4 linked regions of the Homo sapiens genome follow. The protein of the gene in region 4 interacts with the protein of the main gene of each other region in a biochemical or structural test. Each region holds a gene or a part of one and is shown on either strand. Other genes may lie near its edges.

Region 1 (6,168 bases), on a different chromosome or scaffold from region 4:
ATAAACATTCACACACATACATATGTACAGGTATTGTTATTTGTAATTTGACCCTTGTATTTTTTAGTTTAAAATGTTAGTACTGCAAAATGTTATGTCCTCAAAAACACATTGTACCATGATTATGCCGCTTTCAATATTGTAAAGTGAGGTTTTTGCCGCATTATTATTTTTTGGATTTCAATAGCATAGCTTCAAGTTATTCGTAAGAATTTTTTATAAATAATACATTTTTATACTTTTTTATAATTACCATATCATCATAGTGAAGTATATAATATATATGATATAAGCTCAATATAGTATATTAATTCCGTTAAACACAAAGACATATCAGTTTGTAGCTTTGGTGGATAAACAAATTAATTTAGCAATTCATGGCTATGAAAAATGTATATTTTATTTAAAAATTTTAAAGAAAGCTAAATGATCAAATTATTTAATGATGAATTATATGATAGACACTTTATATAAGAAAAACTTCAACAGCAACAAATTAAAATTTTTTCATCATTTTCTAGGTGGACTTAAATCATATTTACGGTGAAACTCTGGCTAGACAGCGTAAACTGCGCCTTTTCAAGGATGGAAAAATGAAATATCAGGTATGCTTCCTTTGACTATTAAGACTTAGTTATTACCGCTTATACCCATATTTTAAAATCCCTAAAAATGTGTTCCTTAACTTTTTAACTGATGTTTATTTATTTATTTATTTTTTTAGATAATTGATGGAGAGATGTATCCTCCCACAGTCAAAGATACTCAGGCAGAGATGATCTACCCTCCTCAAGTCCCTGAGCATCTACGGTTTGCTGTGGGGCAGGAGGTCTTTGGTCTGGTGCCTGGTCTGATGATGTATGCCACAATCTGGCTGCGGGAACACAACAGAGTATGCGATGTGCTTAAACAGGAGCATCCTGAATGGGGTGATGAGCAGTTGTTCCAGACAAGCAGGCTAATACTGATAGGTAAACAAGAAAATGATTTATATAAAACCCTCTTCCCCAGGGAAAATTAGTGTGCTATCTTTGTTATGTTTTGAGTAAATGACAAGATGTGGTAAATGAAAACTCACACATTCTATATACATTAAATATGTAAGCATGACTGATAAAATAGCTATCTTTTGATACTGACAAGGAAGAAAACAGAAATGAAGGAATAGCAAATTTTAAAAATTGCATTCCAGTTGCTTGAAAGCTTGTGATCAGATGCAATAAATGTTTTTATTATTTATTTTGTGCAAATAGGAGAGACTATTAAGATTGTGATTGAAGATTATGTGCAACACTTGAGTGGCTATCACTTCAAACTGAAATTTGACCCAGAACTACTTTTCAACAAACAATTCCAGTACCAAAATCGTATTGCTGCTGAATTTAACACCCTCTATCACTGGCATCCCCTTCTGCCTGACACCTTTCAAATTCATGACCAGAAATACAACTATCAACAGTTTATCTACAACAACTCTATATTGCTGGAACATGGAATTACCCAGTTTGTTGAATCATTCACCAGGCAAATTGCTGGCAGGGTAAGCATTATTATTGAAAACCAAAACAAAAGACTAGTCAGTAACTTTAGAATTTCTGCCACGGAAATTATTTTTCTTAAACTTACTAAAAGAGTAGTTAGTTATATTGCTAGTAAAATTATTTTATTGATATAAGAAGCCTAACTTTGTTTGAAAAGTCTAAACTTTTAGTCTAGTCTACAGTTGTCAGACAAATAGCAAATTGTACCCCTACCTTAAAAATATTTTCAAAAAGTATCTATAATCTTATAGGAATAAATATTTTAGGCTTGAATACTAGTGTTATTTTTGAAATGTAAAAAGGCAAATTAGTTCTAGGCTGGTGTCCCATTGAATTTTAAGCAGAGCTCCTGTTGAAATGTAGGTAAGCATCTTTCCAGCAAATAAAAATTGTCTCCGCTGGGAGTTTCAGTTTTACCTGATTTGTACCTAAGGCAAGCTGAATACAAACAGTAAATATGCCTAAAATTCTTGTTTTACAACTAATTTTACTTTCCACAGGTTGCTGGTGGTAGGAATGTTCCACCCGCAGTACAGAAAGTATCACAGGCTTCCATTGACCAGAGCAGGCAGATGAAATACCAGTCTTTTAATGAGTACCGCAAACGCTTTATGCTGAAGCCCTATGAATCATTTGAAGAACTTACAGGTAAGAAACAGTTTCTAAACTTCTTCGTTTTTTGTTTGTTTGTTTGTTTTTGTTGTTTTTGGTTTTCTTTTCGAGATGGAGCCGCCCTCTGTCACCCAGGCTGGAGTGCAGTGGCGCCATCTCGGCTCACTGCAACCTCCGCCTCCTGGGTTCAAGCAATTCTCCTGCCTCAACTTCCTGAGTAGCTGGGACTACAGGCTCACGTCGCACGCATGGATAATTTTTTGTATTTTCAGTATAGACGGGGTTTCACCGTGTTAGCCAGGCTGGTCTCAAACTCCTGACCTAGTGATCCGCCGGCTTCGGCCTCCCGAAGTGCTGGGATTACAGGCGTGAGCCACCGCGCCTGGCCCCTAAACTTCTTAAAAGAATCAGGGGTCAAATGGAAACAGAGAAGTTGGCAGCAAATTGAGCAAAAGAATCAAACTGTTTTTTATTTTGTGAAGTTTGACATTGGTTGTATCTCTGTCTTCATCGCCTTCACAGGAGAAAAGGAAATGTCTGCAGAGTTGGAAGCACTCTATGGTGACATCGATGCTGTGGAGCTGTATCCTGCCCTTCTGGTAGAAAAGCCTCGGCCAGATGCCATCTTTGGTGAAACCATGGTAGAAGTTGGAGCACCATTCTCCTTGAAAGGACTTATGGGTAATGTTATATGTTCTCCTGCCTACTGGAAGCCAAGCACTTTTGGTGGAGAAGTGGGTTTTCAAATCATCAACACTGCCTCAATTCAGTCTCTCATCTGCAATAACGTGAAGGGCTGTCCCTTTACTTCATTCAGTGTTCCAGATCCAGAGCTCATTAAAACAGTCACCATCAATGCAAGTTCTTCCCGCTCCGGACTAGATGATATCAATCCCACAGTACTACTAAAAGAACGTTCGACTGAACTGTAGAAGTCTAATGATCATATTTATTTATTTATATGAACCATGTCTATTAATTTAATTATTTAATAATATTTATATTAAACTCCTTATGTTACTTAACATCTTCTGTAACAGAAGTCAGTACTCCTGTTGCGGAGAAAGGAGTCATACTTGTGAAGACTTTTATGTCACTACTCTAAAGATTTTGCTGTTGCTGTTAAGTTTGGAAAACAGTTTTTATTCTGTTTTATAAACCAGAGAGAAATGAGTTTTGACGTCTTTTTACTTGAATTTCAACTTATATTATAAGAACGAAAGTAAAGATGTTTGAATACTTAAACACTGTCACAAGATGGCAAAATGCTGAAAGTTTTTACACTGTCGATGTTTCCAATGCATCTTCCATGATGCATTAGAAGTAACTAATGTTTGAAATTTTAAAGTACTTTTGGTTATTTTTCTGTCATCAAACAAAAACAGGTATCAGTGCATTATTAAATGAATATTTAAATTAGACATTACCAGTAATTTCATGTCTACTTTTTAAAATCAGCAATGAAACAATAATTTGAAATTTCTAAATTCATAGGGTAGAATCACCTGTAAAAGCTTGTTTGATTTCTTAAAGTTATTAAACTTGTACATATACCAAAAAGAAGCTGTCTTGGATTTAAATCTGTAAAATCAGTAGAAATTTTACTACAATTGCTTGTTAAAATATTTTATAAGTGATGTTCCTTTTTCACCAAGAGTATAAACCTTTTTAGTGTGACTGTTAAAACTTCCTTTTAAATCAAAATGCCAAATTTATTAAGGTGGTGGAGCCACTGCAGTGTTATCTTAAAATAAGAATATTTTGTTGAGATATTCCAGAATTTGTTTATATGGCTGGTAACATGTAAAATCTATATCAGCAAAAGGGTCTACCTTTAAAATAAGCAATAACAAAGAAGAAAACCAAATTATTGTTCAAATTTAGGTTTAAACTTTTGAAGCAAACTTTTTTTTATCCTTGTGCACTGCAGGCCTGGTACTCAGATTTTGCTATGAGGTTAATGAAGTACCAAGCTGTGCTTGAATAATGATATGTTTTCTCAGATTTTCTGTTGTACAGTTTAATTTAGCAGTCCATATCACATTGCAAAAGTAGCAATGACCTCATAAAATACCTCTTCAAAATGCTTAAATTCATTTCACACATTAATTTTATCTCAGTCTTGAAGCCAATTCAGTAGGTGCATTGGAATCAAGCCTGGCTACCTGCATGCTGTTCCTTTTCTTTTCTTCTTTTAGCCATTTTGCTAAGAGACACAGTCTTCTCATCACTTCGTTTCTCCTATTTTGTTTTACTAGTTTTAAGATCAGAGTTCACTTTCTTTGGACTCTGCCTATATTTTCTTACCTGAACTTTTGCAAGTTTTCAGGTAAACCTCAGCTCAGGACTGCTATTTAGCTCCTCTTAAGAAGATTAAAAGAGAAAAAAAAAGGCCCTTTTAAAAATAGTATACACTTATTTTAAGTGAAAAGCAGAGAATTTTATTTATAGCTAATTTTAGCTATCTGTAACCAAGATGGATGCAAAGAGGCTAGTGCCTCAGAGAGAACTGTACGGGGTTTGTGACTGGAAAAAGTTACGTTCCCATTCTAATTAATGCCCTTTCTTATTTAAAAACAAAACCAAATGATATCTAAGTAGTTCTCAGCAATAATAATAATGACGATAATACTTCTTTTCCACATCTCATTGTCACTGACATTTAATGGTACTGTATATTACTTAATTTATTGAAGATTATTATTTATGTCTTATTAGGACACTATGGTTATAAACTGTGTTTAAGCCTACAATCATTGATTTTTTTTTGTTATGTCACAATCAGTATATTTTCTTTGGGGTTACCTCTCTGAATATTATGTAAACAATCCAAAGAAATGATTGTATTAAGATTTGTGAATAAATTTTTAGAAATCTGATTGGCATATTGAGATATTTAAGGTTGAATGTTTGTCCTTAGGATAGGCCTATGTGCTAGCCCACAAAGAATATTGTCTCATTAGCCTGAATGTGCCATAAGACTGACCTTTTAAAATGTTTTGAGGGATCTGTGGATGCTTCGTTAATTTGTTCAGCCACAATTTATTGAGAAAATATTCTGTGTCAAGCACTGTGGGTTTTAATATTTTTAAATCAAACGCTGATTACAGATAATAGTATTTATATAAATAATTGAAAAAAATTTTCTTTTGGGAAGAGGGAGAAAATGAAATAAATATCATTAAAGATAACTCAGGAGAATCTTCTTTACAATTTTACGTTTAGAATGTTTAAGGTTAAGAAAGAAATAGTCAATATGCTTGTATAAAACACTGTTCACTGTTTTTTTTAAAAAAAAAACTTGATTTGTTATTAACATTGATCTGCTGACAAAACCTGGGAATTTGGGTTGTGTATGCGAATGTTTCAGTGCCTCAGACAAATGTGTATTTAACTTATGTAAAAGATAAGTCTGGAAATAAATGTCTGTTTATTTTTGTACTATTTAAAAATTGACAGATCTTTTCTGAAGATAAACTTTGATTGTTTCTATACATCTTTGTCATATGACATAAGATTTCTCTGAAGCATTACTCTTAAACCATTATCTTGCATTCTCCTACCTATTCAAAACTAGGACTGGCCCTTCATGAAATGGTTTTGCCCTCAATTATATAGAGGCTTCCTAGAGTCACTATTTAAATCTCATAATCCTTATTCACTGCGACACTGTGTTGGAAAATGTCTAGTTTGTGTATCTTTACAGAAGATGGCAAACAAGCTTATTTTCATTGCCTAGTCTAGAAGAAGAAGAAAAAAATACACAATAAGGCAAAGAATAAGACATATATTATGAAGGGGGCACAAAGTTAAGAAGTTCAAAGAGGAGGAAATTATACAAAGTTGGGCAAATCATTGATGCAAAAGCTCATAGGCTTTTGTTGTACCTCTATCCTTGACATCTTGGTAATTTCAATATCTACATGGACCACATATTTAGCATCTTCCCTGGCCTCTCCTCTTTGGCCTTCTCCATTCCAGGGATGGCCTCTTCCACCATATTTCCTGAAATCAT
Region 2 (4,653 bases), on a different chromosome or scaffold from region 4:
TGCGGGTGCGGGACCTCACAGAGCAGGGCTGGGGGCAGAGGCAGGAGGGTGGCAAAGAAGGGACAGGGAGCAGAAGAAGAGGGCCTCAAATGCCTGACTGAGCGAGTGCGAGCCACGGGTGCCAAGCAGAGGGAACCCCTTCAGAAAGGGGAGCCAGGGTCAGTACCTTTGGGCCACCATGACCTCCAGCCCTGCTGCTCCCCAGTTGGTTCCACGGCAAGATCACACGGGAGCAGGCTGAGCGGCTTCTGTACCCGCCGGAGACAGGCCTGTTCCTGGTGCGGGAGAGCACCAACTACCCCGGAGACTACACGCTGTGCGTGAGCTGCGACGGCAAGGTGGAGCACTACCGCATCATGTACCATGCCAGCAAGCTCAGCATCGACGAGGAGGTGTACTTTGAGAACCTCATGCAGCTGGTGGAGGTGAGCTGGGGGGTACAGAGCCTTGCTCCCACCCTCACACACCCTAAACCCATCTGGGGCCCTGGCTTCTAGCTCCAGCCCCACTGCTTCTGCGTGGTGACCAGCCATGTGGGGCAACTTCTGTGAGCCCTTGTTTCCTCACACCTTGGTGGAGCAGCTGCTGCGTGCCAGGACTCACCTCTGACCCCACAGTGCCACCATGAGGAGGGGAGCCTTATCCTCATTTTATAGACCAGGAGTTGAAGGTTCAGAGCAGTTAGGGGACCCACCTGAGGTCCCACAGATATAATTTGGTGCCAGGACTAGAATCTGAGTCTGTCTGATCCCAGAGCTAACTTTCCTCCAGCCACTCACAGACCTGCATGCTCAGAAGCGTGTGCAGAAACATGAGCCATGCGCCTTGATCGCCAGGGCCCCTGAGGCTCTCGCACCTGCACGGACATGCCCACAGGTCCCTGCAGCTTCCCAGGCCAGCTCTGCCAGCCCTGGCCAGGCCACACCTGGCATCCGGTAGCCACAGGAAGCCTCCCGTGTCCCTCTGTATTCACTCTTATCTCCCTCCCCTACTGGCCTGGCTTGGCCTGTGGCAGGTGAGGGTGGGGTCCTGGGCACTCCTGGCTAGAGGCTGGTTTCAGGACTGAGCCATGGGTTGCCCTCTGCATCAGATACCCATGGGGCCCAGAGTGGTAGCAGCAGCTGAGTGTCCAGCAACCGCATGTAGGGTGGCATGGGAAATGGGCCATACGTCATAATCTGGGACTTCCCTAACCCCTGCCCTACCAGAAATGGGGAGCCCTCCCCACTCAGTGACTCCAGGCTAGGCGGGGCTGGCCTCTGCCGCCCTCTGGTGGTCAGGCCTGGACGGTGCATATGGGGCACCTTGGGCTGTCTCTGAGCACCCTGCCCCCCACACCCTGCAGCACTACACCTCAGACGCAGATGGACTCTGTACGCGCCTCATTAAACCAAAGGTCATGGAGGGCACAGTGGCGGCCCAGGATGAGTTCTACCGCAGTGAGTGCACCCCACCCCAGACCTCTTGCCCACCCACCTCCTCCCACGCAGGCTTCCTGGCACTGCCCCATCCAGGAACCTCCAGAGAACCCCAGTGCCTGATAGTCCAGTCAGCCTCTGTCATCCCAGCCATGTCCCTAGTGGCCTCCAGGCCCTCACTGGCCCCTCCCCACAGGCGGCTGGGCCCTGAACATGAAGGAGCTGAAGCTGCTGCAGACCATCGGGAAGGGGGAGTTCGGAGGTGAGCTGGGCCGGGCCCCCTGGGGGGGTTCTGAGGGACTCCGAACTTGGGAACAAGACCACCTCTCTGCCCCCAGACGTGATGCTGGGCGATTACCGAGGGAACAAAGTCGCCGTCAAGTGCATTAAGAACGACGCCACTGCCCAGGCCTTCCTGGCTGAAGCCTCAGTCATGACGTGAGTGGGGGCGGGGTAGGGGGGAGGTTGGCCTAGGTTAGGAGTGAGGCACCAGCTTCCCCTTTCTGACCACTCTCGTCCTGCCCCAGGCAACTGCGGCATAGCAACCTGGTGCAGCTCCTGGGCGTGATCGTGGAGGAGAAGGGCGGGCTCTACATCGTCACTGAGTACATGGCCAAGGTGGGCACCTGCCGAGACCCGGCACTCAGGCCTTCCAACTGCCCCGAAACCCCCACTGTGCTCTAGGGCCCCTGCTCCCTCAGTCCCCCGACCCCAAGTGAGCTTTTAGGTCACCAGGGCTGGGCTTTTGTCCTGGTTTACCATTCATTGACTGTAACATTGGACAAATCATGTCACCTCCAAGCCTCAGCATCACATCTGGGAAATGGAGATAATAACAACTTAGAGATTTGTGAGAGTCAAGGGATAAGGCATGAATAACACAGAGCAGTGTCCGGCATGGATGTTCTGGCCCCTCCCCACTCCTTCCCTGTCTCACACCTCCCTGGAGTGTCAACACCCACCCGGCCCCAGCGTGCTGTGTGAGAGGGCTGCAGGGCACGTCTGACCTCGGCCTGGTCTGTCCTTCCTGCCCCCAGGGGAGCCTTGTGGACTACCTGCGGTCTAGGGGTCGGTCAGTGCTGGGCGGAGACTGTCTCCTCAAGTTCTCGCTGTGAGTGAAGCAGCCTCTTGGATGGGTAGGGTTTGAGGGGTACCCTGCCCTGCTATGGGAGCCCCAGTCTGAGGGGACATGTGGCTGGCCTACCCCCAGAGATGTCTGCGAGGCCATGGAATACCTGGAGGGCAACAATTTCGTGCATCGAGACCTGGCTGCCCGCAATGTGCTGGTGTCTGAGGACAACGTGGCCAAGGTCAGCGACTTTGGTCTCACCAAGGAGGCGTCCAGCACCCAGGACACGGGCAAGCTGCCAGTCAAGTGGACAGCCCCTGAGGCCCTGAGAGAGAAGGTGGGGCTGGCCTCCCCTGGGGCCTACAGAGGTGGGCAGGAGTCCTGGGTCACTCCCCACCCTGGAGTCCCAGGATCTGACGCTGCTTCTTCCATCCACATGGCAGAAATTCTCCACTAAGTCTGACGTGTGGAGTTTCGGAATCCTTCTCTGGGAAATCTACTCCTTTGGGCGAGTGCCTTATCCAAGAATTGTGAGTATGGGTACTGGGATCAGGGTGGCTCTTGGAGCACCGGAGGGGTTGGCAGGGGCGTGAGCCTCCTTGGGCCCTGCCTCCCCAATCAAGGCCTAGAAGCCTCAGGCCTGCCCTGGGGAGCTCACAGGCCACTCTCCGGGCCTGGGTCTGCGGCAAAGCTGATGGGCATCCCTGAGAGGCTGCTGGGTAGGTGTCCTCTCTGAGGCCAGGGCCTGGACTGACTCCTGCCTCCCCCTGGCCACAGCCCCTGAAGGACGTCGTCCCTCGGGTGGAGAAGGGCTACAAGATGGATGCCCCCGACGGCTGCCCGCCCGCAGTCTATGAAGTCATGAAGAACTGCTGGCACCTGGACGCCGCCATGCGGCCCTCCTTCCTACAGCTCCGAGAGCAGCTTGAGCACATCAAAACCCACGAGCTGCACCTGTGACGGCTGGCCTCCGCCTGGGTCATGGGCCTGTGGGGACTGAACCTGGAAGATCATGGACCTGGTGCCCCTGCTCACTGGGCCCGAGCCTGAACTGAGCCCCAGCGGGCTGGCGGGCCTTTTTCCTGCGTCCCAGCCTGCACCCCTCCGGCCCCGTCTCTCTTGGACCCACCTGTGGGGCCTGGGGAGCCCACTGAGGGGCCAGGGAGGAAGGAGGCCACGGAGCGGGAGGCAGCGCCCCACCACGTCGGGCTTCCCTGGCCTCCCGCCACTCGCCTTCTTAGAGTTTTATTCCTTTCCTTTTTTGAGATTTTTTTTCCGTGTGTTTATTTTTTATTATTTTTCAAGATAAGGAGAAAGAAAGTACCCAGCAAATGGGCATTTTACAAGAAGTACGAATCTTATTTTTCCTGTCCTGCCCGTGAGGGTGGGGGGGACCGGGCCCCTCTCTAGGGACCCCTCGCCCCAGCCTCATTCCCCATTCTGTGTCCCATGTCCCGTGTCTCCTCGGTCGCCCCGTGTTTGCGCTTGACCATGTTGCACTGTTTGCATGCGCCCGAGGCAGACGTCTGTCAGGGGCTTGGATTTCGTGTGCCGCTGCCACCCGCCCACCCGCCTTGTGAGATGGAATTGTAATAAACCACGCCATGAGGACACCGCCGCCCGCCTCGGCGCTTCCTCCACCGAGCCTGCTTGTCCTGCCCGGTCGTCCCTCCCATGCCATCTTGTCCATCCCCCTGTGTCTGTGAGTGGGGCTGGGTGGGGAGCATGGCTGGGAGATGTAGCCGCCGCTTTGTGTCAGCTGCACGAGTGAGTGTCCTTGTGTCTGCCCTCCGGGAAGTGCTCACCAGTTGCCCTGCTGCCGCCAGGCCCAGCTCCGGGGCCCCATCTACAGGATGCTGCCTGGGGGTTCCAGCTGCCTCCCCTGCTGTTTTCAAGCCTGCCGCACAAGGAGGGCTACAGCTAGGGATGGGAGGGAGCCCAGGCCTGCACAGATGGGAACGGGGTTCTAGTCAAGCCCCCTGTGCAAGAGAGAGAAAAAGCAATGGTGGGCCCAGTGGGCTTCCTCTGGCAGGAGGAGAAGTGTCTCATGCCTGAGAAGATGCTGACCCGGAGAGGGACGGGAAAGCTCCTGGTGGTTCTCCAGTTTCACCCACGATGTCACAGCTTTGCCCTGTCCCCACCCCTGCCATGTGCCAGGCCTTAGGT
Region 3 (7,035 bases), on a different chromosome or scaffold from region 4:
AACCATTTCTATCAGAAAAATAAAGTACAAGTTTAGGTGATGAGCGTAAAGCTAGGGCCTGTGCGAGGCTGCTGGCACGAGGCGGTATGAAGGGGTGGGAAGGTGGCTTCTCCCGGCGTGAAGCCTCAGGGGCGGCCACCTGCCCACTGCTCTCGGAGTTAGCTGCTCTGTCAAGGTCCAGGAGACCCCGGGTCCCTGCCCAGAGTCACAGCCCCCGTATCTGGGCTCCGGCCTGGGGCAGCCTCGGGGAGAAGATGGCAGGCGTGCTCTGTGAAATACGTGAGGCTTTCAGGGGCTCCGTTTGTGGTTTTCCTAACCCTCCCTGATGACCCCCACAGAACATGAGGCTATGTCACTCACGGTAATTAAATAAGACATTCGCCCAGTTCAAGAGTGCAGCCAGGACCAGGACTGGCCAGGCCCTTTCCTCCCACCTGTGCGCAGGTGCCCAGTGGCAGCTCTATTCTCTCTCAGGGCGGCTACACAGAGGCAGGGCTTTGAAATGCTTCAAGAACTCAGAAAAGTGAAGGCTGTCTTGTTCCAAAGGAAAGGGCCTTGTAAGAATCTACTTTGTCTTAGAGGAGTGGGGGAGGGGAAGGGCCCTTTCAGGGCACCCAGATGTGTGAAAGGACGGTTCACTCTGGGCCCTTGCAGACCTGCCTGGGCCCAGTCTGGGGCTATTTGGCACCAGCTGTTCACCCCACTAGCCACTGCCTCCCTTGTCCCCTGCCTCCATTCTGCTGGGGGAGGGATGTCGGCAGTGACAGTGACCTGCCACCCTTGAGACTCAAGCTTTCTTGCCAGGATTCACAGTGCACGTCACAAGAGAGCAAGAGCTGGGCTCTGGGGATGTGGACAGATGGAAAGGACATGCCCCATGCCTCGATCCTTTTCAGCTCCCACCTGCCCAGGACCCAAAGGCTGGTTGGCTTTAGCACCCTGTTTTCCACCCAAATCAAGAGCTGTCCTGCACGTGAGGAAATGGCGAGTGCACCCCACCCCGGGCAGCAGCAGAGGGCAGAGTGACCAGCCGTGTGCATGCCCGTGCATGCCCTTCCCGAAATGCGGTTCTTGAAACATGTCTTCAGCACACGACGGGCAAGGCCAGGGAGTGCAGGCAGAGGGCCTGACACACAAGGCCTCAGTTCAGGCTTCCATTCTTGGAGAAGTGGAAGAAGGAGGCCCAGCCGGGGGAGGAGGGGCTCCAGAGAGAAAAAAATGAAAAAGACAGTCCACATCAGCCGTTCCCACCTGGCCTGGAGAGCTCAGTCTGGGGCACTAGGTGGGAGCGGGGCTGGCGGGTCCTGGCATGCCGACTGCAGTCCACGGAGCAGGAACTCCACAGATAAAATTCGAGGACAGAGACGGAGCGGGGAGGAGGAAGGTGCGGGAGGGCAGGCGGTGCAAACGTAGGTAGTAGAGCTGGACTCCACAGGGCCCTCAGCTCTGCCTGGCGCAGAGCTCCTGGGCCAAGGTGCTGACTCACTAGTCCCTTGTCAGCCACTGTCACGGGTATGGGCGAGCCCGCATGTGCTGCAGGCAGCTCCGACGGGCCTGACACCTGACCCCTGACTGCTGCTACCTCTGCACTATGTCACTGATTTCCTTCACCGAACTGAGGAGCTTGCTGAAGTCCTGAGTGGCCGCTGGACCACTGCCTGCTGTCGCCGGGCAGATCTGAAGCTCCCGGAGATTATTCTCCAGTTTGTTGATGGCCTCTCGGAAGGCAAACTTGTTCCTCATTTGCTGGATGGAATCCACATAGCTCACGCAGAACGTGTAGAGGTTTTTGCCGGCCTCCAGCACTGCGCTGTGGCTGGCCATCTGCTCGGAGTTCCTAGAGATGGCGAGGCACAGCGCCTCGGTGCTGTCCAGGACCACGCCCTTGGTGATGGCGCCGCTGGCGATCCGCTCTGGAGGCTGGCGGGTTTTCCGAAGAGACACTCGGGTTGATATGAGAGGGATGAAGGCGGTGGAAGACGGCTGGTCCCCTGCCAGGGCCGAGGATGCTGATGGCAACGTGGAGGGAACGGGGGCTGGGCTGATGGGGGTCCCCGACGGCTTGGCGGACTGTGGCTTTGGAGTGGCCGGGAGCACGGGCTTTTTGAGGCCCTCTCCCGGCTGGCTGGGCTTGGCAGCGTCACTGTTCACAGCATCAACCAGACTCGTGGCTTTTGTCTTTGCGCCCAGGACTGCCTCCCCGGCCGCCTCCTGGCTCGGGCTCTGCGAGGGCTTTCCTCCAGCCTTCCCTGCAGAGGCTGCTGGTGGGGGCGGCGGGGCAGGTTTGAGCCTGGACAATTTCCCCTTGTCCCTCCCTGGCGACTCAGAGGAGTGCTTGTGCCTCCTCACTCTGGACTCCTCGGCGGGGCCCTTGCTGGTGCCCCCTGGTGCACCTGAGCCTGCTTTGCTGGTGGGGGTCACTGGCTCAGCTGCAGCAGGGGTCCCTAAGGCACTGCCCTTTCCAGCTTCTTCCTTGTGGGGGAGGCCCGAGGCAGGGGCCACGGTGACCTGCCGCCGGAGGGGTTTTGGAGTCAGGTTGGGCGGGCTGGAGCCCGGGCTGGACTCCATGATGTCTTTGAAGACCTCATCAGCAGCTTCCTCATTCTTTTTCACCAGCCTGGGGGGAGGCGTTACTGTGCCTCGGGTCACCTGGTCAGACCTGTTCTCCCCTGCCCTCTTCCGAGGCAGAGCCGGCTTCTCACTTTTGTGCCCTCCAAATGTGGACGAGTCAAACTGTCTTCCCGTGGACTGCAAGTCCCGAGGCAGCGTGACTGACCTCCACTCCGTGTCCTTGGCCCCATGGGGAACGCAGGAGGCGGAGCAAGAGCGCAGGAAGCGCTTGCTGGAGCTGCCACCGCCCTCCTCCTCGCCGGTGGCTAGGCGGCTGCTGGTCAGCGTGCTGGACTTCTTCCACAGGTGGGGAGACCGGAAGCCTGAGCCCCCGGACTCCCGGAGGGCTCCATTGGGGACCCCAGCCCCATTGCTGGGCTTTGGGGACTTGGCTGGGTCAGCTGTGTCCAAGGGGGTGAAAGCCAGTGCCCCGTTGCTGATGTCTCGGCCCTCTTCCTCGCCGGCCCCTCTGCGCTCCGGCTGGCCGTCCATCTCCCGGAAGGAGCTGCTGCGTTTGGGAGGGGTTGGGGCTGTCTTCTTCTTCTTCTTGATCAAGGCGCTGAACAAGTTGGTCTTTTTGTCTTTGGGGAGAAGGCGCTCATCTTCATTCAGGCCGCCCTCCGGGGGACCTCGCTCTTTTCGAGGGAGCAATGGAGACACGGCAGGCTCATGGTCCAGAGGATCTGAAACGCAAGGGGAAGAGCTGACAACTCCAGACAACTCTAGAGGCTGACAGAGGAGAATCGCTTGAACCCGGGAGGCAGAGTGCCACTGCTGCACTCCAGCCCAGGAGACAGAGTGAGACTCCATCTCAAAACAAACAAACAAACAAACAAAAAAATTGTCAAAGGTCATCCCTTCTTATCTCCTGTGCATAATGGCCCATTGTCCCTTCCCCACTGTGGGACACAGCCCCTTATTCCCAGAGCTCCTCATAGGCCTCTCGGCTAGCTGGCTGGCAGGAGAGCCACAGGTTTTGACCCTTTGCTTGGCCTTGTCATCGTTTTTATACTCACTAGAGAGTGATGTGGGTGGGTGGGGGGCTGCTGCCTTCAAGTAAACCAGTGCAGGGATGAAGAGGCCAGGGCCGTCCAGCTTTTTGTTCCCATCTTCAGGGAAAGAGACCAAAGCGTGTGTGTGGTTTTTTTTTTTTTTTGAGTTGGAGTCTCGCTTGTTGCCTACGCTGGAGTGCAGTGGCACGATCTCAGCTCACTGCAACCTCCGCCTCCCAGGTTCAAATGGTTCTCTTGCCTCAGCCTCCCAAGTAGCTAGGACTATAGGCACCCGCTACCACGCCTGGCTAATTTTGTATTTTTAGTAGAGACGGGGTTTCACCATGTTGGTTAGGCTGGTCTCAAACTCCTGACCTCAGGTGATCCACCCGCCTTGGCCTCCCAAAGTGCTGGGATTACAGGCATGAGCCACTGCACCCGGCCCAAAGCCTTTCCTAATGACAATCCTAACAGCAATGATGGCTTTATTGAGAGAAGCGTGACACGTGCTTCACCTTTACAACCTCATCTGCATTCTCACAACAGTGCTGTAGCCCGGCTGGGACTTGCCTGGCCTCAGGGATGGTGGCATCAGAGCCGGTTATCAGATCCAGGCCTGTCTGAGCCCAGACGCTTGGGTGCTCCTCTGGGGAGCATGGGGTGGGGGCAGCCCCCAGCTTGTGCCACGGGAGCCTGACCTTGTGATTCGCTGACCTCGGCCTCCTAAAGTGCTGGGATTACAGGTGTGAGCCACCACGCCCGGCCAACAGTTTTTTAATGGGCACTCTTTAAATATGAATCATAGCTCATAAGAAATCTTTCTGGTAGCCAGGCGCGGTGGCTCAAGCCTGTCATCCCAGCACTTTGGGAGGCTGAGGTGGGCGGATCATGAGGTCAAGAGATAGAGACCATCCTGGCCAACATGATGAAACCCCGTCTCTACTAAAAAATGCAAAAATTAGCTGGGTGTGGTGGCACACGCCTGTAGTCCCAGCTACTCAGGAGGATGAGGCAGGAGAATCGCTTGAACCCAGGAGGTGGAGGTTGCAGTGAGCTGGTATCATGCCATTGCACTCCAGCCTGGCAACAGAGTGAGACTCCATCTCAAAAAAAAAAGGAAATCTTTTTGGTGTTGCCAAGCTCCTGCTAGTGAGTAACAGAATTCTCCCTCAGAGGTCAGCTTGCAAGAAGAGGTTTTCTGTTGGCACCTGTAACTCAACAGAGGTACCAGTATGCATTTATCAGAACCCAAGGCAGCACGCGGGACATCTGAATCAGGGAACACCAAAGCCCTCCCAAAACTTTAATCTAGTGGAAGGAGGCCAGGAGAGTGAAATTGCAATGAATTATGCACCACTCAGTTTCAGCACTGAGCAGTTAATTGACACCCTCGGCTCACCAAGAGATCACTATCAAAATACCCCTCAGATGAAACTGACGGGCGTAAATGAACATGACTGCTGATCACTGGGTTCTTAATAAGCACAGCGTTCCCAGAGGCCTCTCCTCCCTACTGCTCAGCCACCTGAAATCAGGAAAACCGATAAGAGGAGGAAGGGTGGAAGATTCTGGAGAGTCTATACGCCATAACCTCCAAGTAGGTGAGTGAGATGGCCCAGCGGGGCGGGAAGTATTGCAAATTTGGACTTATTTAGCATGCAAGCCTTTTAAATGTGCGTTTTGGTACATAACATACGCACTCTACTCCTACAGTAGTGGACATACGTACTTTATATACCATATATATGGGCTGCATGTTCTGTTTTTTTTTGTTTTTTTTTTACTAATGAGAGTACGTGATAAAACTCAGGTTTATAGATTCTGCTGTCAGTAAACATCCCACCATAAATCTTCAAGAAGTAGGGCTTTGTCCAGTCCCTTCACATGTACCCAGTCTGCAGTCCATTAGAATGGAGTCCACCATTGCCATCCCCAGGATCCTCTGTGAACCCAGATGCTTGGCCTACCCCCCACCTCCAATATGGGTTGGCTGAGTCCCCACCCAAATCTCACCTTGAATTGTAATAAGCCCCACGTGTCAACGGTGGGGTCAGGTGGAGATCAATGAATCATGGGGAGGTTTCTCCCACATTCTCGTGGTAGTGAATAAGTCTCACGAGATCTGATGGTTTTATAAAGCGGACTTCCCCTGCACAAGCTCTCTTGCCTGCCGCCAAGTAAGATGTGACCTTGCTCCTCATTCACCTTCAGCCATGATTGTGAGGCCTCCCCAGCCATGTGGAACTGTGAGTCAGTGAAACCTCTTTCCTTTATAAATTACCCAGTCTTGGGTATACCTTTATTAGCAGCATGAAAACAGACTAATACACCCCTCAATGCTTTTGTTCAGCTGGTCTGCAGCAGAACCTGGACTGCTGGTTCTGGGGGTCAACCATGAACATAGAACAGAGCCTGGCCTGTAGTAGGCACACTACATAAATGTTGGCCATTATTATTTTTGCTAGTGTCTTGAGACCCCCTCCTGAGCTGATCCCAACTCCCTTGCTCGCCTAGGCAATGGCACCAGAAAGATGCTCTTCCCAGAGACCACCAGGACACGGGTTCTGTCCATGTGCGTGTCCTGGTTCCACCTGGCTGCAGCGAGCTTCTCACATCAGTGCCTTCACCGTGAGCTGCTTGTCACGCAGCCTGGTGCTTACTATTGTTGAATCTGCTCTGAGACAGCAACCACAGATGCCGCGGGTAATAGGTGGGAGATGGGCTAGCTCCTTGGCGGGCTTCAGAAGCACCTCTGCCTACAGGACTGAACTCACTGCTGGAGCCTATGCTCCTCGGGGACTCTCAGAGGGAGGGGATAGGAGGCAGGTGGGGAGAGGAGAACCTTCCTCCTTCCGAAGCTGAACCATTGACAAAGGCCATGGCTGCCCTTCTGTGCGGGCTCCATTCACAGCTTCCCGTTGGCCTATGATGGCCTGAATGTAGCCTCTGGCAGGGAAGGGAAGAGCAGTGGGGTTGGGGGAAGCGGGGGACTTACCGCTCTCTCCCTGGCCCTTGGAGTGAGGCATCTCAGGCACGTCAGTGGTGTCTCTGTGCTCTGCAGCTCTCCTGGAGGTCCTCGTCTTGGTGGGCAGCTCTGGGGCCTGCAGCAAGGTACTCACAGCCCCACGGACGCCTTGTTTCCCCAGCTCCTTTTCCACTTCTAAGAATCATACAGGGACAGAAACAAAAATCCAGCAGCCATCAGTACTGGTGTTGGCTTGGTGTGGTGGTTCTCTTTCTTTGTAAGGTAACAGTGCTCATCTGCATACAACTAAAGAAAAGGCACGTGGATACCGGAGAAACAGCCCTTAGCATTTCTTAGAACTCTGCAGGGCTGCAGCAGACAAGAAAGCACAATACTCCACACCTCTGCCCAGCTTTCTGGTCTCAGGACAGGCTGGTCTGTGAACTTTCACCAGGAAGTGAACCGAAT
Region 4 (7,035 bases):
AAAAACTATTTACTAAAAACATTACCTTAAAGGGAGAGGATATTTGTGTTTTCCCCCACCCCCACCCTTCTCATGTGGCTTTGAACAAGAAGGAGAGTTGCCAGGAAAAGAGGCAGATTTCAGAGAGGGCTGGCTTCACTGGATCCTCCCTGTTGTTCCACTGCACTGTGAGTGAGATTCCCTGGAGCAAGCGAATCTCCCGGGATGAGTCAGAGAGGCCAACAGTGTGGATGTGGGTCTCCACACATAGCATGACTAAGTTGAGAAAGAAAGGCCCCACTGGGAAAAGAGACTTCAACACAGATGGAAAAAAAACATAACAGGCTTGGAGGAAATAGCAGTTTACAAAACAGCATTTCAAAGAGCAAGTGTGGGGATCCTCAAATTAAAGAAATTAAAAGAAAAAGCTAGAGCAAGCTCCTGCTAGCCTAAAGAAACCAAACCCTGACTACTTGCTCATAGAACTGTGAGCAAAACAAGACAGTCAAACCAAAAAATCCACCTAGAAAAGAATTTGGCAGTCTCACTCAGATGCCTGGCCTAGAGGGGACTTCAGAGAATGCCCTACAGAGAGACACCAAGACTACAAATGCAAATTCTGCCCAAAGAGTGCCTGGCCGATGAACAGGGTCCTATCTACATCTTATGGAGACTCCTATTTTATAAATATGTATCCTCAAGTCCAAGCACAAACAAAATAACAGAAACAGGGATGATTCTCTCCCAGTTTCCATGACAGTAAATAATAAATTTCCCTAAATTTTACTTTCAACAACATAGACTTTTTTTATTTTTATTTTTATTTATTTATTTATTTATTTTTTGAGACGGAGTCTCACTCTGTCACCCAGGCTGGAGTGCAGTGGCATGATCTGGGATCACTGCAACCTCCACCTCCCAGGTTCAAGCAATTCTTCTGTCTCAGCCTCCTGAGTAGCTGGGACTACAAGTGCACGCCACCATGCCGGGTTAATATTTGTATTTTTAGTGGAGACGGGGTTTCACCATGTTGGCCAGGCTGGTCTTGAACTCCTGACCTCAAGTGATCCACTGGTCTTGGCCTCCCAAAGTGTTGGGATTACAGATGTGAGCCACTACACCTGGCCAACAACACAGACTTCTTAAAAAAATCATGACAATAATTTTGGGTGCTTCTTAAAAGCACCCAAAGCTTTACTGCTAATGCATGGTAGCTTAAAACTTCACATAATAAGAAAGAACCAGTGGCCAATGGAATCTACTGTTAAAGGTACCCAATCAAGTAAGGAAAAGTTGGTCCTAAAAGCAAGCAGCCCTGTAAAAGCTGCTCTGTCCAATATGGTAATCACTAGCCATTTGTGTTTCCATTTAAATTTCAAGTAATTAATATCAAGTAAAATTTAAAATTCAGTTCCTTAGTCACACTAGCCACGTTGTGAGTGTGCAACAGGTAAAGCTAGTGGCACAGACATAGAACATTTCCATCAGCACAGAAATCTCTATTGGACAGTGCCAGATTAGGGTGTTCTCTGCATTGTAAAAGCATCCCCTTGCCAAGTTAAAGAAAACAACAACAAAACTCTAGAGAAGAAATGAAACCCCAGTTTCATTTCTGGAGAGGAAAGAAAACTCATGTGTGGCATGAGTTTATATTCAAGAAGGTGCAGCATTATTACCTATTTTACTAGTAATAATGACACACATTATAGTATACAATCCAGTTCCAATAAAATTAATTTCTCATCTTACTAAAAGCTTGCTGCTCCACATTATGAGACAATTTACCCAAATATAGACATTTACCCAAAAATATTAAGTAGCTTGTGAATACTTTTTAAAATTTCCTTTAATTAAAGTGGTCACAAACTCAAACCCTTCATTCTCCCTCTGAGATTTCTGTGTCATCTTTTGTTCACATTGTTATTCACATGTTTATTATGTACTTATTTTGATTTTCTAGATAAATAAAATGGCTTCAAATCTATAATTCTGATAAAATTAGCCATCAATTAATTTATTTATTAAACCCATGCAATATGCTAGATTAGATGCTTTGCTATGTAATTCCTACAATAAATCCTAGCAATCACAAAGATTACAGTTAGTGAGACGACATGCACACAGGTAAAAAGTGTTTTTAAAAAATACATACATACAACCAAAACAGTAAGTCACTGCTACATGGAAACTGATTGGTCCTTTTTCCTTTTTTTTTTTTTGCCTTGACTGCCAGGAAGCAGTTTCAAATCTATAGCTGGATTTTAAGTTTCATTAATTCATGTTCCCACATATGGTTCTGTATTTTCACTTCCCCCTTTTAACTGACATACTGTCTTATGTGATCTCTACTGTAAGCCTTCTCATCATTTTGGAAACAGACCAAATATAATATATATGATAAGGAATCAAAAGTAAATACAGTAGTGTTGAATATTGCATAACAAAAAGGTTTTTAAATAGGGAATGGTATCAATATGAAGTGTTAGGGAGACCCAGCCATGAAAAGGATAGCAGGGTCAGAGAAGGAGGATGTATTGCAGCTGGTTTAATGGAGAATGGTATGAAGGAGGTGCAGTTTGAATTGGGTCATGGAGGACAGATGGATTGCAAATAGCTGGGGCAAAAGCACAGGAAGGCATTCTAAACGAGCCAGGCATGGAGACAAGAATGTCTCCCACAAGGGAGTTGTAGTAGCTCAATCAGACTGGGATTTGAGATTTCATGTGGCAGAGTGGTAGGTGATAAAGGTGAAAAGACTGATCATAGTAAAATGCGGAGTCTGTAAATCCAGCACTCATGATAAGTTTGGACATCATGTCAACAGTGGACAGCCATAAATGACTGCAAGCATCGGTGTGGTATAATGAAGGTGACGTTTTTGTAAAATGACTCTGGTGAAGGTACAGAAGGTAATGAAAAGTAGCCAGTCTAGTTGAGCAGAAAAGAGTTCAGATGTAATTGCATCATGGTCCAGATGTGAAATGAAGACAATGCGAAGTGGCATTGTGGATCGAAACATACATGCACAAAATGACAGAATTTTAGAATTTGAAGGGATCATCATGGTTACCAGGCTGGCCTCCAATTCCTCTTTTGTAATATTAATAGAAATTAAGGGCTAACAAGTTTAAAATGTTATCCATCTTTTTACATAGTTACTGCCCAAAGTGAATATTTTGAAATGTATCATTAAAGAAGAATAGATAAGATTATGTGATTCACCATGGACTATTGTCATGAGAGGAAAAATGTGTTTAGATGATTCTGTTAGCACTGAGACAAATCAGGATATCTGAAAGGAGGTCTTTGTTGAAAAACAGAAATATGCATTCATAACTTGCTTTTCTAAAATTGGAATGTAATGATTCTTAAATATGCACAGACACAAATTTTTCTTTAACAGTCAAGAAAATGCACGCAGGTGATAATCAGATCAGTTTTGGTTATAGTACAAAGGTTTAATGCCTCCGTGATCCCTTTCAACTTGAAAGCATTCTAGAGCAATTGGTGATTAATATCAGTATAACAGTCATTTATAAAATTATTATTTATTTGATATACATCTAATCAAAGCATAAGATTTATTTTTATTATTATTATTATACTTTAAGTTTTAGGGTACATGTGCACAATGTGCAGGTTAGTTACATATGTATACATGTGCCATGCTGGTGCGCTGCACCCACTAACTCGTTGTCTAGCATTAGGTTTAAAAGATCAGATTGTCTCGGCACCATGTTAATATCTTTTTCTGTTGGCATTAGTATTAGTTTTGCTTGTGTATTTGTTTAGGAGATAGCTTCACAAGTTGGTGATTGATATTCTACCATGTATGAAGTCATGCGTGGAATTCAGAATCCCCAGCTTGTAAAATTGCATTATGATCATCTTTAGTGGGAAATTGTTCTCAGAATACTGAGCAAAGGATGATACCAAAATGGCAGCTATTATTCATTCTTAAGCATATGAAATGCTTTCAGGTTCAACCCAAAATTACATACATTTTAAATGCTTACTAAAAGAGTCTTTTCCCTCCTCCATCTATTAACTGCAATCAAAAAACTTCGGTTTTAACTGAACATGATTTCATATTATTTATTAAAATTTAAGGCAAGGTGCACCAAGTACCCTTGAATTATGAAAAGCTTCATGATGTGGGATATTCTTTCAGTTAACGGCAGGGTTGGCTACACTTTTAAGGGGTTCAAAGTAGGAACAGCTGCAATAGTGAGCTGCATCTGGAAAGTCCAGTAATTTGAAAAACCACCTGTTTATGTATCCTGCCCACTCAAGTCCATAAAATAACAGACACTTTCATATTCCAAATGAAACTGCTTTTTAGTTTGCCCTACTTTTAAACATAACTCTTTGTGATGGAATGACCAGAAACAGCTGGTCTCTAAGAGGACAGGGCTATGTGCGCTCACCTGCGGGGTTGGACCTTCCATAATCCCCCTGGCTGTGGGGAAAGTTGAGGGCTGCTGTCTTTATACAAAGATGGTTTATTCCAAGATACACACACTCTTCTTCCACACCCTGGAGACCTTGCATATTTAGTATCTTCTTTACCATAATCTGAGGCCCTAGAGAAAAAGATTTGCAAACTATACTTGTTTTAAAACAACTTTCTAAAAAAGACACTCTCAGCCCCTAGAAATTATGCCTAACACATAGATGCTCAGAGGCAACCTGTTGTAGTGCAAGAGGATTGTGCCAAGATTAGAAAACAAATATTTGCAACTTTTGTAACTGTCTTCTCTAAAACTTGAATGTGGTGATTCTAAAGTAAAGACCGACACAAAATTCTTTTTCTTTAGCAGTCAGGAAAAGGCATGCATGAAGTAATCAGATCAGGTGTGGTTTCAGCATAATGGCCTAATGCTTTCATGATCTCTTTCAACTGGAAAGCGTTCTAGTCCCACTGGACACCAAGGAGGAAGAAGGGACGGAAAATATTAGGCCCATAGGTTTATCTTCCTCAGTAGTCCACGAGATTTGAGCTTATATGTAGGGAGCAAAATTGTTTGTCTAAAAGCAGTTAATAAATGCCCCAAAAAGGCTGGGCGCAGTGACTCACTCCTGTAATCCCAGCACTTTGGGAGCTCAAGATTGGTGGATCATGAGGTTAGGAGAGCAAGATCATCCTGGCCAACACGGTGAAACCCCATCTCTATGAAAAATACAAAAATTAGCTGGGTGTGGTAGCGCGTGTTTAATCCCAGCTACTGGGGAAGCTGAGGCAGGAGAATGGCTTGAACCCAGGAGGCCAAGATTGCAGTGAGCCAAGATTGCGCCACTGCACTCCAGCCTGGTGACACAGCGAGACTCCGTCTCAAAAAATAAAATAAATAAAATAAAATAAAATAAAATAAAATAAAATAAAATAAAATAAAATAAAATAAAATAAAAATAAAATGAACGCCCCAAAAATATTTTGGGCAAACTATTTTGTGTTTCTTTTCTTTATTTATTTATTTCTTTTGAGACAAAATCTTGCTCTGTTGCCCCGGCTGGAGTGCAATGGCACAATCTTGGCTCACTGTATCCTCAACCTCCTGGGCTCAAGCAACTCCTGAGTAACTGGGACCACAGGGATGTGCCACAATTCCCGGCTAATTGTTTTAGCCAGGATATAAATGCTGCCTACATAGAGTTTGTAGCTATCTCCTTGACTTTCTTTATGCAGATTCCTTCACAAACTTTTGATGGATTCCTTTACCAAATTCTACTGTCTGTTAAAATCTTCTATCTTTATATCTTTAGTCCAAACAACACGTCATTTATAAACCTTAAAATTGTTTCTGGGCAAATAAACAAGGCAAAATAGGAATATATATTTTTAGGCAATTTACTTCTGTTTTGGTCTCATAAAAAATTGTAATTAAATTGTAGAAAATATTTCAATTCCTCTTTAATATCCTCTCCTCACATACTGGCTCTCAACTTCTAATCCTCCTATTGAAACATTGATTGGGAGGCCAAGGCAGGCGGATCAACTGAGGTCAGGAGTTTGAGACCAGCCTGGCCAACATGGTGAAACCCTGTCTCTACTAAAAATACAAAAGATTAGCTGGGCATGGTGGCATGCACCTGTAGTCCCAGCTACTTTGGTGGCTGAGGCACGAGAATCGCTTTAACCCGGGAGGCAGAAGTTACAGTGTGCCAAGATCAAGCCACTGAACTCCAGCCTGGGCGACAGAGTGAGACTCCATCACAAAAAAATAAAAATAAAAATTGAAATTTGCAGCCTTTTTAAAACCCCATAGCCTCTTTATAAACCCAAAAGCACTATCAAATTTGGCGAGGTGTCAAAAGAATCAGAGGAATGTTTACAAATACAGATGCCTGGGCCCACCTCAGATATATATATATATATATATATATATATATATATTTTTTTTTTTTTTTTTTTTTTGAGACGATGTCTTGCTCTGTCACCCAGGCTGGAGTGCAGTGGCATGATCTCAGCTCACTGCAAGCTCCGTCTCCCGGGTTCACGCCATTCTCCTGCCTCAGCCTCCCAAGTAGCTGGGACTACAGGCGCCCGCCACCACGGCTGGCTAATTTTTTCTATTTTTTAGTAGAGACAGGGTGTCACCGTGTTAGCCAGGATGGTCTCAATCTCCTGACCTTGTGATCCGCTCGCCTCGGCCTCTCAAAGTGCTGGGATTACAGGCGTGAGCCACTGCACCCGGCCCAGATATATTAAATTAGAATATCTAGAGGTGGAGCCTGAGTATCTGTATTTTTCAGAGTTTCAAATGATCGTTCTTCAAATGATTACACTGTGAAGTCAGATTTAGAAATGACTGTACCCAAGGTTGGCTAAAAGATACACACCCTGGTTGATTCTACCTGAAGAGAGCAAATAAGATACACAGCAAAGTTGTAGATGTTTTCCCTGCCAGTAGAATACTTGCGGGTTAGGCCATTTAAAACCCTGCCAGAGAGTTTTGAAACACTGTGGAGGGCTCCCAAATCAACTTGCTCAATGGTTCTCCATCCCTTCAGGCTACTTGGGCTTAAAGCCAACTGCAAGCTTAGAGCCTCAGAGTG

What was found.
Region 1: the proteins of CAV1 (region 4) and PTGS2 form a complex in vitro, tested with the Homo sapiens proteins (2 studies listed by BioGRID).
Region 2: the proteins of CAV1 (region 4) and CSK form a complex in vitro, tested with the Homo sapiens proteins (one study listed by BioGRID).
Region 3: the proteins of CAV1 (region 4) and ABL1 interact on a protein array, tested with the Homo sapiens proteins (one study listed by IntAct).

Annotation. Positions count from the first base shown.
Region 1 is NC_000001.11:186,671,270-186,677,437, reverse strand, and holds the end of PTGS2 (prostaglandin G/H synthase 2 precursor), read left to right. Parts: intron 1-521; coding exon 522-605; intron 606-724; coding exon 725-971; intron 972-1,253; coding exon 1,254-1,540; intron 1,541-2,041; coding exon 2,042-2,189; intron 2,190-2,675; coding exon 2,676-3,085; 3' UTR 3,086-5,647; downstream 5,648-6,168. UniProt on the Homo sapiens protein: Dual cyclooxygenase and peroxidase in the biosynthesis pathway of prostanoids, a class of C20 oxylipins mainly derived from arachidonate ((5Z,8Z,11Z,14Z)-eicosatetraenoate, AA, C20:4(n-6)), with a particular role in the inflammatory response.
Region 2 is NC_000015.10:74,799,067-74,803,719, forward strand, and holds the end of CSK (tyrosine-protein kinase CSK), read left to right. Parts: intron 1-205; coding exon 206-425; intron 426-1,345; coding exon 1,346-1,439; intron 1,440-1,614; coding exon 1,615-1,680; intron 1,681-1,756; coding exon 1,757-1,856; intron 1,857-1,945; coding exon 1,946-2,036; intron 2,037-2,455; coding exon 2,456-2,529; intron 2,530-2,628; coding exon 2,629-2,824; intron 2,825-2,930; coding exon 2,931-3,017; intron 3,018-3,264; coding exon 3,265-3,447; 3' UTR 3,448-4,131; downstream 4,132-4,653. UniProt on the Homo sapiens protein: Non-receptor tyrosine-protein kinase that plays an important role in the regulation of cell growth, differentiation, migration and immune response.
Region 3 is NC_000009.12:130,880,227-130,887,261, reverse strand, and holds part of ABL1 (tyrosine-protein kinase ABL1), read right to left. Parts: intron 6,763-7,035; coding exon 6,598-6,762; intron 3,294-6,597; coding exon 1,579-3,293; 3' UTR 1-1,578. UniProt on the Homo sapiens protein: Non-receptor tyrosine-protein kinase that plays a role in many key processes linked to cell growth and survival such as cytoskeleton remodeling in response to extracellular stimuli, cell motility and adhesion, receptor endocytosis, autophagy, DNA damage response and apoptosis.
Region 4 is NC_000007.14:116,528,024-116,535,058, forward strand, and holds part of CAV1 (caveolin-1), read left to right. Parts: intron 1-7,035. UniProt on the Homo sapiens protein: May act as a scaffolding protein within caveolar membranes. Forms a stable heterooligomeric complex with CAV2 that targets to lipid rafts and drives caveolae formation. Mediates the recruitment of CAVIN proteins (CAVIN1/2/3/4) to the caveolae.